2 separate regions of the Homo sapiens genome follow, and region 2 is linked to region 1. A link means that fine-mapping ties the variant in region 1 to the expression of a gene that starts in the linked region. Tissue or cell type: pancreas. Region 1 holds a variant in brackets; the other region holds the start of a gene. All regions are shown on one strand. Distances are between the middles of the regions.

Evidence for each region. PIP is the estimated chance that this variant, and not a neighbour inherited with it, causes the effect.
Region 2: it holds the start of MAP7, and the variant in region 1 is fine-mapped to the expression of MAP7 in pancreas (GTEx, PIP above 0.99).

Annotation. Positions count from the first base shown.
Region 1 is chr6:135,887,012-135,895,011 of GRCh38, forward strand. All of the region lies in intron 1 of PDE7B (phosphodiesterase 7B), which reads left to right. Among named protein-coding and RNA genes, the nearest start is that of PDE7B, 39 kb to the left of the region's middle. The variant A/G (reference allele first, on the strand shown) is at 4,640.
Region 2 is chr6:136,546,971-136,555,114 of GRCh38, forward strand. MAP7 (microtubule associated protein 7) reads right to left here and starts at 3,452. Exons shown (of 18, transcript NM_003980.6): 1 at 3,372-3,452. The coding sequence starts at 3,438. It overlaps MAP7-AS1 (MAP7 antisense RNA 1), which reads right to left and starts at 5,535. Exons shown (of 1, transcript NR_186370.1): 1 at 3,753-5,535. RefSeq lists enhancers at 2,288-2,826, 3,365-3,902 and silencers at 3,124-3,173, 3,184-3,363, 3,404-3,753.

The DNA of each region.
Region 1 (8,000 bases):
CATCACACCAACATCTGTTGTTTTTTGTCTTTTTAATAATAGTCTTCTTGCAGGAGTAAGGTGGTATCTCATTGTGGTTTTCATTTGCATTTCCCTGATGATCAGTGATGATGAGCATTTTTTCATATGTTTGTTGGCTGTTCGTAAATCTGTTGAGAAATGCCTATTCATGTCCTTTGCCCACTTTTTGATGGGATTATTTGTTTTTCTTCTTGCTGATTTGTTTGAGTTCCTGTGGCTTCTGGATACTAGTCCTTTGTTGAATCCATAGTTAATATTTGCAAAGATTTGCTGAGCATTTATACTGTGCAAGACCTTTTGTTAGAGGCTGGAGATATAACAATGAGTCTTGCTTTCAGTACTTTATAATTGCTCTGCAGATTAACTGTACAGACTTAAAATAATTTTCCCTAACCTGTAACCCTACCAGAAAAATAATTAAGAGAATATGAAAGGATCTGCTTAAATCAGAAAAGTGAACGTATCAGTTAGACTAAGTAATGATGGTGAACCCAATATTGACAAAGATACTAAATATACACTTAAGTTTGATATTTATTTAAATGTTGTGTACTGTATTCTGCTTTCAAAATTATTAAGCAAAGATTTGTCCTTAGTAGTTACCCAGTATTTACAGAGAATATATTAATTAGGGGCTTTATTTTATTGAAAAGGCTTAATTGGCTATGCAAATCTACACCCTCTCAATTATCTACATTTGGAGCAAGTTTACTTAGTTGGTCTAAATAAGCATAATTTGTGGCAGTTACCTTGGTGTTGTCAAATCTAAACCTTTAAACAAAAAATAAATCTCATGTGACCTTTTCTGAATGAATTCTCATTGTTTCTAGCAGCCACCTCAATCTTTCAGCCCAATGTTTAGATTCCCCTGTAATCCAATCATGATTTACCTTTTGACAGTTTACTCCCTACTACTCCCCAATTCTTTGTTCTACTGCGCTTACTATTTCCCTGGACATATATTTGTGATTATTTACATCATCTTTCATCTTGCTATGTCATCTCTTAATTCTCTCCAACTATAGTACTATTGGCATTTAACAAATTCTTACTACCTGTGAACTACTGCATTGAGTGCTTTTGCCTATATTATCCCACGTAATTGCTATGATACCTCTATGACCTCAGTGAGTTTCGTTTTAAAGACTTTTATAAACTGAGGCTTACAGACACTGAGTAACCTCTTTACAAGAAGAGGACTACTTAGTAAAAAAGAGGACTAAGTAACCTGCTCAAGGTCACACAATTAGTGTGACCTTCAGTTAGTTATTGAACCCAGATCTAACGGCAAATCTAGGTACCTAACCATTATGTTCTGCTGCTTCCAAGGACTTAGAGCTATGCTACTGGATAATTATCTTTGGGACCTCAGATAAAGTAACTGACATTTCTGAGCTCCAATAAAGCTGAAATACACACGTGTGTGTGTGTGTGCATGTATAACACCTTAAATAGGTGTGCATGTATAACACCTTAGAATAGGTTCTTGTTATTTTATTTATACTTATTATAGGTATAAAATATAGGTATAAAATAAACATCACTGTTCTGGACTATTTAGAAATATAGATCCAAGAAGAACAACTAATGTCGACAGTAGGTGTACTAGTTTAAAAAATAAATATTATAAAAAATAAGTAGTATAAAAAATAAATATTATAGGTATAAAATAAACATCACTGTTCTGGACTATTTAGAAATATAGATCCAAGAAGAACAACTAATGTCAACAGTAGGTGTAGTAGTTTTGGTTTTCTGTGTTTATAAATATTTTTTCTAATTATATAATTCTGGTGTCCAGAAGATAAATGTGATTAATATAATCTACCACAAGCACATGCCCTTAAGGAAAACAAGCAGAAATAAAACAATAAGAAATACTATAAATACATCTAAAGTTGTGTGATTTCTATAAGTTACAAGTGAATTTTACTAAATATCTAGTCTAGATGATTTTCCCAGTGATTCATCCCTAACTTCAGTTTTGAGCAGAAATTCAGTTCTAAAGTTTGCCTAATAATATAAATGGAATCTTTTACTCAGCAGGTTGATCTTCCAGGGGTCATGCCCAGTTAATAGATTCTTGAGGACATCTTTAAATTCTCTTAAATTCTAAAGGAATCCTGAGGTTTGAATACAATGACCCACCAACAGATACCCCAGGCCTATGTTAGAGTATAGGTCTAATGTGACTCAGGCTCTCACTGAACCACCTTCAACCTGACCTGGGAAGACCCTGGCTCTCTAGATCCACCATGTCCAGCTGTCTCCAGCTGAACAATTTTTTTTTTTTTGACAGAGTCTTACTCCGTCACCCAGGCTTCTGACCTCAAGTGATCCGCCTGCCTTGGCCTCCCAAAGTGCTGGGATTACAGGTGTGAGCCACCGCACCCGAATGGTGCTACCAATTTTTTTTTTTTTTTTTTTTTTGAGATGGAGTCTCACTCTGTCATCCAGGAGTGCAATGACGCAATCTCGGCTCACTGTAACCTCCACCTCCTGGGTTCAAGTGATTCTCCTGCCTCAGCCTCCTGAGTAGTTGGGATTACAGGCGCCCACCACCAGGCCCAGCTAATTTTTGTATTTTTAGTAGAGACGGGGTTTTGCCTTGTTGGTCAGGCTGGTCTCGAACTCCTGACCTCAGGTTATCCGCCCACCTCAGCCTCCCAAAGTGCTGGGATTACAAACGTGAGCCACCGCACCCAGACGGTGCTACCATTTTTTTTTTTTTTTTTTTTTTTGAGATGGAGTCTCACTCTGTCACCCGGGAGTGCAAATGACGCGATCTCAGCTCACTGCAACCTCTGCCTCCTGGGTTCAAGCGATTCTCCTGCCTCAGACTCCTGAGTAGTTGGGATTACAGGCACCCACCACCACGCCCAGCTAATTTTTGTATTTTTAGTAGAGACGGGGTTTCACCATGTTGATCAGGCTGGTCTCGAACTCCTGACCTCAGGTTATCCGCCCACCTCAGCCTCCCAAAGTACTGGGATTACAGGCATGAGCCACCACACCCAGATGGTGCTACTTTTTATATCAGTCTCAGTGTGTGAATTGGGCAGGGACATGAGTGTACCAATTGTTTGATGTATATAATTATTTTCTACTTCGTATGATACATGATTCACAATAATTTACAAACTGATAAAACAATAACATTTTAAAAAATGAATTTCCATTATTAGAGATTTCTGAAGAAACATAATGTTGGGATATGGTGGACAAGCGAAGAATTTCCTTACAAAATTATTCTTTACTCTCTGATTGTTTTAACACCGTAAGTTTATCAGACAGGTTCTAGATATTTCCTATGGTACTTAGAGCCACATGCAGATTGTTTGTGCGTTCAAACTGGTCAAAGTTGCGGACCAGAGTGCTGCTATTGATTTGTTTCACTCCGGTGAATGTAAATCATTCATGTTTGGCAGCATTTGTCCTACTGGAGATAAAACATAAGGAATATGTGCACAGCTTCAAAGGTGCAGCTTGACTGTGATGGTAACCCAGCACGCAGTGGGTATGACTGGCATTTTTGAGAATACATCATAAACTCTCCAAGGAGTCTGCACCATCTTCCCTGAGATCATTATATATCCACCAAAATGAGGAGAAGGAGAAGAATGTGGCAAGAGATCAAAAGAGGCAGTCACTATAAACTCACCTATTTTGTTGATGCAAGGCAAGTTGCACTAAGTTTAGGAAAGCAAAAAGATACTCTTCGAGGTCCGGGGAGGAAATGCAGAAACTGCTAATGGGAAAACGAGCATGGTCCATATAGGACTCTGATATTAGAGTTGTTTTTTTTCTACCGAGGCTGCTCTACCCATGAGTATCCCCATCTTCAAGAAACTACTAAAAGTTGAAGTGTTTATTCACGTGTTATTTTCGAACAGTTAACTGTATAAAAGAAAGGCATATTTTCTTTTCCTGCATCCATAAGCCATGTGCCAAAAAAGCTCTTGTTTAACATGCTTCTTAGGATTAAAAGGGTTTCTGCTGCAAACAGGTCTGAATTACATACGCATCTTAAACATGCCTCAGCTTTAAAGGGACACATTCTTCAAGTGAGGCTGCATTTACAGGCGCAATAGATTTTTCCCTCGGCATAAGCCAAAGAGCAGAGACATACTTTAATATTTCTGACAAGATCTGAACTATAATATTGTTCTGTTTGGAAAATTAGGCTTCAAAGCAGAAGCCATACATTTATTTTCAAGATGAGAACCCAAAGAGTAACAAAAATGATTAGAAAAAGAATCTGAAAGAGTGAGACTCATTAAAATGAAAATCTTTGTGTTGATGACTGCATATAAAATCATAGATCATTAGGGCTAAAGGAAGAATGTATTTGCCAGATGTTGAAATGGCAAGATAGTTTCATCTCTCCCTACCATCTGTTAAGAATTCCATCCACAGGTCTCATTAATAATCCTTGGGAAAACAAGGCAACCTTCAGGAGCATTGGGAAAATTATGGATGCATTATAATGAAGTCAGAGCAAAACTGAGGTGAGAAATTCAAACACCTTCTAAACGCGGAGCTCCTAACCAGTGGTCCACGCCAGAATCATCTGAACACAGTGTTTCAAAATGTGCATTCTCAGGCTCCACTGCCAGCC[A/G]TTTTCATTCATTTGGGTGTGGAATGAAACCTAGGCATATGAATTTTGAAAAAGCCTTCCAAGTGATTTTGATGATAATTCTGGTTAAGAAGAGAAAGCATGTTCTACCTTGTCATTATGTATCTACTACCTTTCCAGTAGATTGCAAACTCTTTTGAAAGGATTCTGTCATATTTACCTTGTGTCCTCTGCTGTCTGTAGCATAGCTGGACTGTAAGCTTGAGGAAGGAAGAGAGCATGCTAGTTTTGTTTATTATCATAATTACTCCTGCCCACCCCTCCCACTCCAGTCCACAGCTAGAAGAGCACATGGTCTATAGTTGGTACCCAAGAAATTGAATTAAAAAAATGAATACTAGGAATTTAATTATATCCATATGGATTTGAATTGATTTTCCTCTTTTCTGATATTATTGTTTACTATGTACCCAGTGAGTTCTCAAATGCTTATTGAGTGAACACACTGAATTTTGGAAGTTAAATATGAGTCACTTTCAGGGGCTTTTGAGTGGTATTTGTAGAAATAAGTCTCATGACTTTATATTCCTGCCCTCTTTCTTTGGGCTTCTATGAAATATATCTTTGGCTTATCCTAGACTTGCTGAGAGCAGCTTAATTATATCGGCTTTCAGAAACGTGAGAATCAACTAATCCAGACTAACAAAACAAGCAGATACAGTTGATCCTGTGACTTCAAGTACCTTCCCAAGTGGCATTATTAATAAATCTTGACTCACAGTACTAGCATAATGCATTATTTTTATAGCTAATGCATCAAAAAGTTATTTGATCCATATGACCATATGATTTCTAAGGTCCTATAATCTGAGTTCTATTCTGAGGAGATATTTCCTATACTTTCTAGTGAAGCATATGAAAGGAAATGAAGCAGTTCTAGTCATTAAATAATTACTTCCATCAGTACATACATAGTATCGGGTAATAGGAATATATTATAATAGCTCACCTCTTCTATATTATTCAAATACCATTTGCTGATAACTGGAAATAAGAAAGAATGCTAAAATTGATTGACATCTAACATGAGTTGTTACTTATTATGGGTCAGCATCGAAGCTCATATATAGAAGAGACGATTTGAAATGTTCAGCTAGCCATCTTCATAGGAATTACAATAAGTTGAATATTTCTCAGTATCTTTAGTAAAGATGCCTATGCCTTATTTACAGTGTATTTGCAATGGACCAAGCTGAAGCTGTATAAATGAGACATATGCTTTGTTTCCATGTTCACTGTTGAACTTATGCTCCAGAAAGTCTTCCTTATTCTCTTCTACCCATAATCTTGCCTCTTTTTGAATCCACATGGCATTGATTTTAGAGCTCATTTGTGCACTTTTCTTGTTCTGTCTTCTTTTAGATTTCTACCAAATTGTAAATACCTATAGGGATAGGAGCCTCTTTTTTTTAATTATACTTTAAGTTCTAGGGTACATGTGCACAACGTGCAGGTTTGTTACATATGTATACATGTGCCATGTTGGTGTGCTGCACCCATTAACTCGTCATTTAACATTAGGTATATTTCCTAATGCTGTCCCTCCCCCCTCCCCCCACCCCACAACAGGCCCCAGTGTGTGATGTTCCCCTTCCTGTGTCCATGTGTTCTCATTGTTCGATTCCCACCTATGAATGAGAACATGCGGTGTTTGTTTTTTGTTCCTTGAGATAGTTTGCTGAGAATGATGGTTTCCAGCTTCATCCATGTCCCTACAAAGGACATGAACTCATCATTTTTTATGGCTGCATAGTATTCCATGGTGTATATGTGCCACATTTTCTTAATCCAGTCTATCATTGTTGGACACTTGGGTTGGTTCCAAGTCTTTGCTATTGTGAATAGCAGGTGCTGGAGAGGATGTGGAGAAATAGGAACACTTTTACACTGTTGGTGGGACTGTAAACTAGTTCAACCATTGTGGAAGTCAGTGTGGTGATTCCTCAGGGATCTAGAACTAGAAATACCATTTGACCCAGCCATCCCATTACTGGGTATATACCCAAAGGACTATAAATCATGCTGCTATAAAGGAGCCTTTCTTAATCATCCTGTGTCTCCTGCTATGATAAGCACATAGCAGGTATCTAATTGTAGACTCTCTGAATTGATAATCACTTATATAGAAATTAATAATGACAATATCTTCTTAATCCCAAGAATAATTACACCATCGTCATTGAAGTGAAAAGAGAACATTTAATTTCAAGTTTTGAAGTCTTTTAAAAATAGATATTATAAGCTGATTTAAAGTAGATCTTTTAACCTGTCACCAAAAGCATTTATTCCAGTTAAAAACTTGATCCGTTTATATATTCATGCATAATTTATATTCCACCCACTTCCAAAAATTAATTGAATAGGCCACTAAGGTGATAGGTGATGCCAGTTAAGGAAATTACTAAAATATCAGTAACAAAACCTACCATAAAAGTTTTATTCCCAAAATCATCTTGGTATTTTTAAATGTTTCTAGGTTAAAATGTTAACCACATCTATATGCTTTATTTCTGTACCAAATAGAGTTTGGGAAGGCTTATTTATTAGACGTTTTAAACTAGTTCCTAGTTTATTATGTGATTCTATCTCAAACATAGCATTTTATATTATTTTTCTTTTAATTGACACTGTTTTGTAAATGTTAAGAACTATAGAGTGAATTTAAATGTATATTTAAAAACCTACGTGAAAGATACTTTAACTCCCGCCTTCAAGTGAATTCAAATAAGGAGAATTCCAAGGAGTGGGGAAATTAGCCAAACACTTTTCCGTCTCAGGAAAGCCATAATAACAAGAATTATAACCTGTTCCTATTTTTCTTAATAGGTGATTTGGGGTAAGGACTCCAAGGAAACAAGAGCGTTCTGTTCTAAGACAGAAACATGAGGCAAATGGAGACAAAAGGAGAGAGGAGACCCCAAGGACAATAGCCTCCCACATTCTCTCCATCCAAGGCACACATGCCAAATTGCATTATTCCAATGAGCTCTGCACAATTAACCTGTCCAAAGGGGTTGCGTGGCTGATGTTTAACTTTCCACCCAGCTACGTTGAAATGTACAGTACATCTTGAACATGTTATTTAAATTGAAAATGAAACATCTGGACACATCAGTACGAGACGGGTCCCACTAAATATGGGAACATGTTTACCCAGGTGGGTTCAATCATAATTTCTACTCCGTGAAATAAAATTTCAATCTCGCCTGCAAAAACTAAAAATTAATTTTAGAGTTTTCTTTAAGGAAATTTTTCTCACAGAAAGAATCATATTTCAATTTTAAATATTGGATAATTTGATCAAATGCCTTTATATTAAATGTGCTAAAAAGGGTTTAAGATA
Region 2 (8,144 bases), 660 kb after region 1:
TAGCAAGATGTAAAGGTAACAGCCATATAGGATGGGAGAAAAGCTATCTAGCTATGTGAATGAAGCATCTCTTTCAAAGGGGACAAGCTTAATACCAAATTGACGTCTGAGCCCTTATTTAATTGCAGATATTTAATGTGGACCCTTAGAGTTAAGTGACACCTACAAGATCACTTTTTGATTTGGAAAAGTTCATGAAAGGATGGTCACGAAAGAGGCCATGTTCACCACACAGGTTGCTAAAATGGACAAAAAGCCCAATTCCAGATTCTAAGTCATGACCCACTTCCCAAAATATCAACAGAATTGACAGGTTATTGGCATTAACTTATTCCTTCGTGCATGAAAGCTTCATGAATTAATCAAAAGCAGCTTTAAATTTGCTTTTAGTTCAGGAGGTTTTTAAAACAGGCTATCAGACTAGGAAATTAGTGCTGTACACTCGCTTTCCACAGCTCTTGAACATGAACATAAAATTAAATATACAAAGCTTGGGTAGAGGCAGTTTTGTGAATATCACCCATCGTAGGTCGACTACTCAAAAAAGGCTGAAAAAGGACTTGACATCCTCTAGTGGTGATGTCTTAAACTTGTTTCCAAGGCAATTTTTTTTTTCCCAGCTCTTAACTTTGGCTGTTGGCAAGAAAAATATTATATTGGAAGAACTTTTCATCCTCAAGAAAAATAAATGTTTTCGCCACAAAGAATGTGATTTGACTAACTTTGAGAATATATACCCACAGAAATAGGGTTTTTAAATGTTGGGTTTATATAATAGCTTTCAATATGCTTAAGAACGGTCTCATTTCATAGGCCACACGCCACCACTGTCAATTCATCTTTGATACACATATACACACACACACACTCACACATATAATTCTGAACACATTACAGGTATCATTTTTATAATAACCTGATATTCTCATCTAAAGTGCCCTAAAATTAGACCAGTCTTTGTATAGAGACCCAAAAACTAAGAGTTATTTAAGAGTGGACTCTACCTCATAATAATGAGTTCTAAAAAGAAATAAAATTAATCCCTCAAGAAATGTTGCCATTTAAGGTGGCAATTTTCAACTCTTGATGGTAATAGTTTCTCTGTCCACGGCCACCCACCACCACCACCCCCCCCCACCCCCCCAACAATTCCATACAAACTTCTGATTGTTTAAAAAAATGAGACTTGCAGTATTTGGATGTGTATAATGTGAAATATGTTCACCAGAATGAAGTGCTAAATTAAAGTCTCATATTCAGATATAGGTCATGTGTTTTAAATATATGGAATAACTTAAGTTGTTGAAATTCAAACAATCTCACTTGTTCTCTCAAAATAACTACCACCTAGATTCAAAAAAATACATTTACACCTTCCTTCTTTCTTTGGCACCTGCTGACACAAATGCTTCTGAACACTAAAAACATTAATAGTAATCTTGGGGTAGAAAAATAGGAAAGAGATGCGGGGCCAGAATTAAGTTTTCAGTGAAATTATAAAGTATAATTATTCAAGACCATATATAAAAAATGTCCTTTGGAAAATGAAGTTTTTAGGCAAAAGTGTGGAAGAAATGTTTTCTATGAAGGAGATAACAGCCAATTTAACTCCCTTTTTAATAAAAGAAAATATTACACTGACAGGCACATGGTTGATTTGTATATTAATTGTTGGAAGCACGGCCTATTCCTTAACATGCTCAGGCACTGAATATCCTACAGTTTGTAGTCAGTTCACTTATGTCTGAACAAGTTGTTCACGTGCAGATTCTAGAAAGTTTATTTTTGAGCACAAACTAACACTTAGCTCGCTAGAACAATGTTGTTTCACATGCAGTTACTGGGTCAGGGTTAGGAACGAAAATCATGCCGTATATTTACAAATGAGGATGCTCCTCTCCCGGGGCCCTCACTTGGGGGAGCCCCGTCCCAGCGTCTAGCTCATCAAATTCCCGAAAGCAATTACAAAGGCATCTCTTCTCCACCCCAAAACAAAATAATGATCTACCAATCTTGCGAACACATTAAGACAAACTCCCTACAGGAAGGAGCATGACTTAAACAAGTTCAAGATACTTTGTCAGTCTTAACCTCAGGTATCTTGGCTGAAGGGATTAAATCATTAGACTTTACGTACCCAACCTCTTCCTAGCAATAGCAGATACATAATTTGCAAATACTGTTTCAGAGCTCTCTGGACCTTTCACGTTAAAATAAGCATACTTGATGGTGGGGAGACAGTGATTCTTACATTTAGGAAACAAATGCTTCCGATTGTGACCGTATGGAAGTGGAAAACAGCTTGCAATTGGAGAGTCTAAGAATTGAATTTCTTTTTAAAGTAAGAAACTGCCTCACTGCCCCCATCCCCAAGTGTAGGAAGATATAGAAACAGCTTACTGGCCAAGAATAGAAGAGGGAACCAGTGGAGAGGGACGGATTTGCAAGATAGCCTCTGGAGAAAAAAAAATCACGAGGGAGAAAAATCGGCTTCATACTATGGAGAGATGGGCGGGGTTGGGAAGCCTTGCTGCTGGTCTTGGGAAGCCTTGCTGCTGGTCTTGGGGACGTGATCCCCTGTCCCTAAGTGTGCCCCTGGAGGTTGTGGGGGAGGGGTATCCTCAACACAGAGGCCTGACCACCAAATCCCGGGCTGCAGAGCCAACAATCCTCCTTTGGGCTCCTGCACAGACTAAAAACAAAAAACTCTGAGAACTCCGACAAGTCAACGAAAGTCTGATCCCGTCAAGCCCGCACTCGCAAACCCCCACCGTGCTGCACTGGGCCCCGGCCCTCCCGAGCTCGGTCCCCTCGGACGACGGTCGTCGCCACTGCGGGCACCAGATTGGGGGGCGGGCCGCTCACCCCGCGGTCCTGCCCCACACCGACCCCGCTGAGGAGCCCCCGGCACCCGGGGCGACCAGGGAAGGCGGGAGGAGGTGCCCAGAAACTGCTCGTCCTGCCAGTCGCACCTGGCCGACGACTCTCTGGCCACTGGTTTGGTCTGGGGGATACGATTTCCCATTCAACTGAATTAGACCCGAGGCCGCGGCGGGGAGGGCAGCGGCCGGGGTCTCTCCGTTTCCTCCCCCGGCTCGCCTCCACCTGTTGCGGGAAAGTCGCGGTGGAGCGCCCGAGGGCGGCCGCAACCCCGGCCGGGGCCGAGCCGGGCTGGCCGAGCCGCGGCGGCGAAGGGCGGGGGAAGGCGCTCTCGGAGCAGGGTGCGCGGCGCGCAGGGCCGGTTGTTCCGGGCCGCGGCCGCGCGGGCGGGGAGGGGGCTGCCGGCGCCGGGTGATTTCGGTGCCAGCCCGCCGGCCCCGCTCGCCGTCCCCTGCCCGACGGGACCCCCACTATCCCCGCTGTGCGGTCACCTGTTTCGCTTCGCACTGCGCCGTCGCCGCCCCTGTGGCCGTCGCCGCCAGCTCCTAGCTCCGCCATGGTGCTCCGATGACGCGCCCGGAGAGCCGCTCCGCCCTTTCCTCGGCTTGGCTCCCGCCGGCCCCCGCCTCCCAGGCCAGCGGCCCAGACAGGTGAGCGCAGTCCGGGGATGGCGGAGGGCGGGGACAGAGAGCGCGGCAGTCGGCTGCGGCCTGGGCCTGGCGCGCCCCCTCGCGGGCAGGTGCGGCGTGGCAGCCGCTCCGACCGCCGCTGCCGAGTCTCGGCTGGAAGAGCGGCGGGCGGAACCAGTACCTCAGTCCGGAGCTTCCGGTCGCCGCGGCCGACCAGCTGAGGGCTCCCGGAGATATGGAGCGGGGTCAGCGAGGCCTGGTGGCGCCTCCTGGAGTCTGGGACGAGCGGCGGTCCGAGGAGCAGCCCAGGTGGGGCGAGGGTACGGAGACGCTATTTCCCTCCGAACTCTGAAGTAGCCAGGTCAGTGTCGGCTCCGCGAGGGCTGGAGTTCACGGTGACAGCCGGCAGAGCATCTGATGCCACGTGGAGAGGCGAAGTACATGGGTCGGATTCCACGCTGGGAGCCGGCCTGGATCTGCGCTTTAGGAAGCCACTGCGGGCGACCCTATCTTGTCGCCAGGACTTCGCATCTGATGAGCCTCAGGGCACACAAGTTAGAGAGGCTTGTGCCGGCTGATGTGGCTTTTCTTTTTCTTAGTTTCCGTTTAGTAAACGACCTTGTGACTTCTGGCTTGCTCAGGAAGACCAGAAAAAAAGGCAATAGGTAACGAATTTTTCTTTTTTTAAAGAAACAGATTATTGGCCGAGGAAAAACCAATTTCGCTCTAAAGGATAAGCAACAAAATACTGAGGGGGGAAAAAGCCTACACAAATGGAAACATACGGCACAAAATCAAGGAGCGACCAGTTCCGCATGGTTACACTAAAATGCACTGCACTCCCACTCTCTGGCTTGGCTGAAGATAACCAGCAAGCTCTGAACAGTTTAAAAGCCTTCCAAGGACTGCAGCAGCACTGGACACACAAGAGAGTCGAGAACAGTATTGGATTTATTGTTAGGGTTACAATTTTCACGATCTTTGCATGCAAAACTTGCCACTCTGAGCCCAGTGAACTATTTTTATTTGGTTTACTTACTGGCTTTCTGGATGACTAGGTAGAGCTTTAACTAAAGAACACTTCTGCTGTGGTCTGTGATGATGAATTTTCCCGTAGTGTCATTTCTATAATGGAATAGGCAAACTGACCATTTAGAATGTGATATTCCTAAATCACATTCAAATCAGTCTTATCAGAGACTTCTAATCAATAAAAATAAAGCACCAGATGGCTAGAGGTAGTTTTTGACCTCAGCTTGGGCCTCAGCAAAGATTTTTTGTGTTTTTTTTAACTACATTAAAACATCAGAGTTTAAGACACTTTTCTTTGAGCATCAGAAATACTCTCAGCTGAATTTAGAGTTGAACTATCCGGAAGAACCCTGGAGAAGGAGGGTGATTTATTTTCAACTTTCTGATTTACCACCGACTTAAATCAACCAATGAGTTCTTTCTTTGACCAAAAAAAAAAAAAAAAAAAAAAAAAAAAAAAAAAAAATTCAAGACTTGTGATGTTTCTATTTGTTTTGTTTTGTTTAGTTTGGTGTGTGCTTACTCATTGTCCCATTCTTTTGATAACCTGTATTTATCTGCCACAAGTTAAACAAAAATAAATGAAATAAGGAACACACCAAAATCCTGCACTTAGGCCCTGTATAGACAGTGTGTTCCAAACCTAAGGAGGTGTCTGCAACAGGGGAGGCTGCTGAGTGACTCTGCAGAGAACAGATGACATCTGTTAAATGTCAAACACCATCACGTCGTACTTCAAGTTGTACTTTACTTGGAACATGGAAGCCATCTGTCTGGAGCTCCCACATCCATTTCAAATCTTCAGGGTTCCCCATTCCAGGGGAGGAGCTGAACCTCCTGACACCGTCCACTTCCCTCCTGCCTCCTTCAAACATCATCCCTTTTTTCTCCCGAATCCCTAAATGTTTCTGCACCCAAGGGCTCTACCCCAATAAACACAGCTAAGACTCTTTGATTCTTAAAATGTCTTCCTTTAACGTCCCACCCTCCAGAATCTATTGTCGTATGTTTTGTTCACCAAAGGTAATAAAAATAAATGTGGATTTTGGTGCCGTTATTTTTCAAAAAAAGCTATATATTAATAGTTTTTCTTGCTTATGTATACAAATCAAATTACTTATTTTTAAATCCATCATTCCCCTAGAGTTTCTGCAGCACTTGATCCTCTAATCACCTTGCTCTTGGTCTACCATTGGCTTGGTTTTTCTCCTTCCTCTGTAGCAGTCCTTTCGTCTTTGTTGACTCAGATTCTTCCTCCCTTCTAATCCTCCAATATTTTTACCATCCCCTAATTGTAAACCACAGGCTTTTTATCTTTACTGTCTCTCACAGCCCTCATTTACTATTACTTCCATCCCGGATCCTGGTGACTCCCAACTCCAGAATATATACCCTTAACCTCACTCCTGACTTCCACTAATACATTCTGAATGGTCCCTGCACAATTCTATCAAGATACCCTGCTGTTAATTTAATATGTTCCAAACCACATTAATCTTGCAATATACAATCACTTTACACATACCTCTCCCTTGCTCAAAAACCTTTAATAGATTCCCCGTTCCTATATAAGTAAATATTAACTTCACCTCCTCACCATCACCACCACCACCCCCTAATTGGGCCCTGAGCTCTCTACTACCCATTTCCACTTTTCACCTCTGTAACTCATATTTCTAGCCCATGGAGTTGTTCATTCTCCAGAACACCTTCCAAATCCCTGCTTTCTAGTCTTTGTGCTTGAAGCTGCTCTGCCCGAAGTGATGTCCTTCATCCTGACGTATTTAATAATACTTTCCCTTTGAGGCCCAGGTTAAGGTCTACTTCCTCCATGAAGCCTGTTCTTCCTGCCCTGGCTCCCAGCATGCCTGTCCTTTGGACCTGGCCAGGGCTTGCTGGGCTTGATACTTGTCCAGCTGTTAAAATAGACTAGGCATGAGTTATTGCAAATTTGCCTTCTCAATCTGATGCACATTTTTGGTAGTAGGGTCTTTGTCCTCTACTTCTCTACAGGGTGTCCATAAAGTCTAGAACTATCAGTTATTTTATTTGTTCACGAGTTGCAGATGTTCTTGATGACATCATGTGCACTGCCTGCATTCTGAACTTGGTAGGCATGGTATATATCTTTTGTGTTGCTACCGTGCCTCACACACAGTGGGCATTCAAATGGGTTAATAATTCCTCAATGCCAAGCTTTTTTATGTGGTGGCCTAGGGATGAACGAAACCAAGTATCCAATGACAGAAGAAAGAGATCAAAATGCAGTTAAAAGGAAACATTAGATCTACTTCTCCCAGCAAATTCCTGTTTTGTTTCTTTTATAACACTGCCACCACCCCTGCATTAACTGTTCTGTTTCAAACCATCTTTCCAGGCTCAGCTCTGCACCTTCACTCCTCTGGAAAGCTTTCCTTGACCCCTTCTGACAGTAAATGTAACTATAGCACTGACTGCACCACTGTTGTTTCTGCTTTGTCTTGATTCCTTGACAAGAAACTTCAGGGGAAAGAACTGTATCTTGTTGGTGCACCACAATATGTAGTACCCAGTATTTAATAAATACTTTTGAATGAAGGATAAGTGATGGCAATAGCAAGCATATCTCAGTGTTTACTGTATGCTAAGCATTGTGCTGAGCACCTCTCCTGCATTGTCTTTTCCTTTTTGAGACAGAGTCTTGCTCTGTCGCCCAGGCTGGATTGCAATGGCGTGATCTCGGCTCACTGCAACATTCACCTCCTGGGTTCAAGCAATTCTCGTACCTCAGCCGCCCGAGTAGATGGGATTATAGGCGTGCGCCACCACGCCTGGCTAGTTTTTGTAATTTTAGTAGAGACAGGGTTTTGCTGTGTAGGCCAGGCTGATCTTGAACTCCTGGCCTCAAGTGATTCACCCACCTCGGCCTCCCAAAGTGCTGGGATTACAGGCACAAGCCACTGCGCCCAGCCTCCATTTTCTTATTTACATCTTATAGCAGACCTATGTGGAAGGTACATCATTTCCTCCATTTCACAGATGAGGAAGCTGAGACTTGGAGAAACTAATTCAGTTGTTCCAGGTCACAAGTCAAGTTACAGTTTTGCTTCAGGCCTGGGTGTGTAGCCTCCTGCTACGCTAAACAAATGATGAACGTTAACCATCTTGCTATTCCCTCTATAGAAAGGGGCTCTCCATTTCCCTCTCTAGCTGTTACCTGAAATAAGGAGGTGAAGCTTGATCATGTTAAAACACCTGTGAAACTAATTTTTAAAAAGGGTATCTGGGCCCAACCCCAGACCAGTAAAAACAGTTTTCCGGCTGGACACAGTGGCTCATGCCTGTAATCCCAACACTTTGGGAGGTTGAGGCAGGATGATCACTTGAGCCTAAAAGTTCGAGACCAGAGTGAGCTGAACATAGTAAGACCTTGTCTCTACAAAAAATTTAAAAATTAGCCAGACATGGTGGTGCATGCCTGTAGTCCCAGCTACTTGGGATGCTGAGGTGGGAGGACTACTTGAGCCCAGGAGGTCAAGAATGCAGTGAGCTATGACAGTGCCACTGCATTCTAGCCTGGGTGACAGAGACTCTGTCCCAAGAAAAAACAAATAACAACAACAA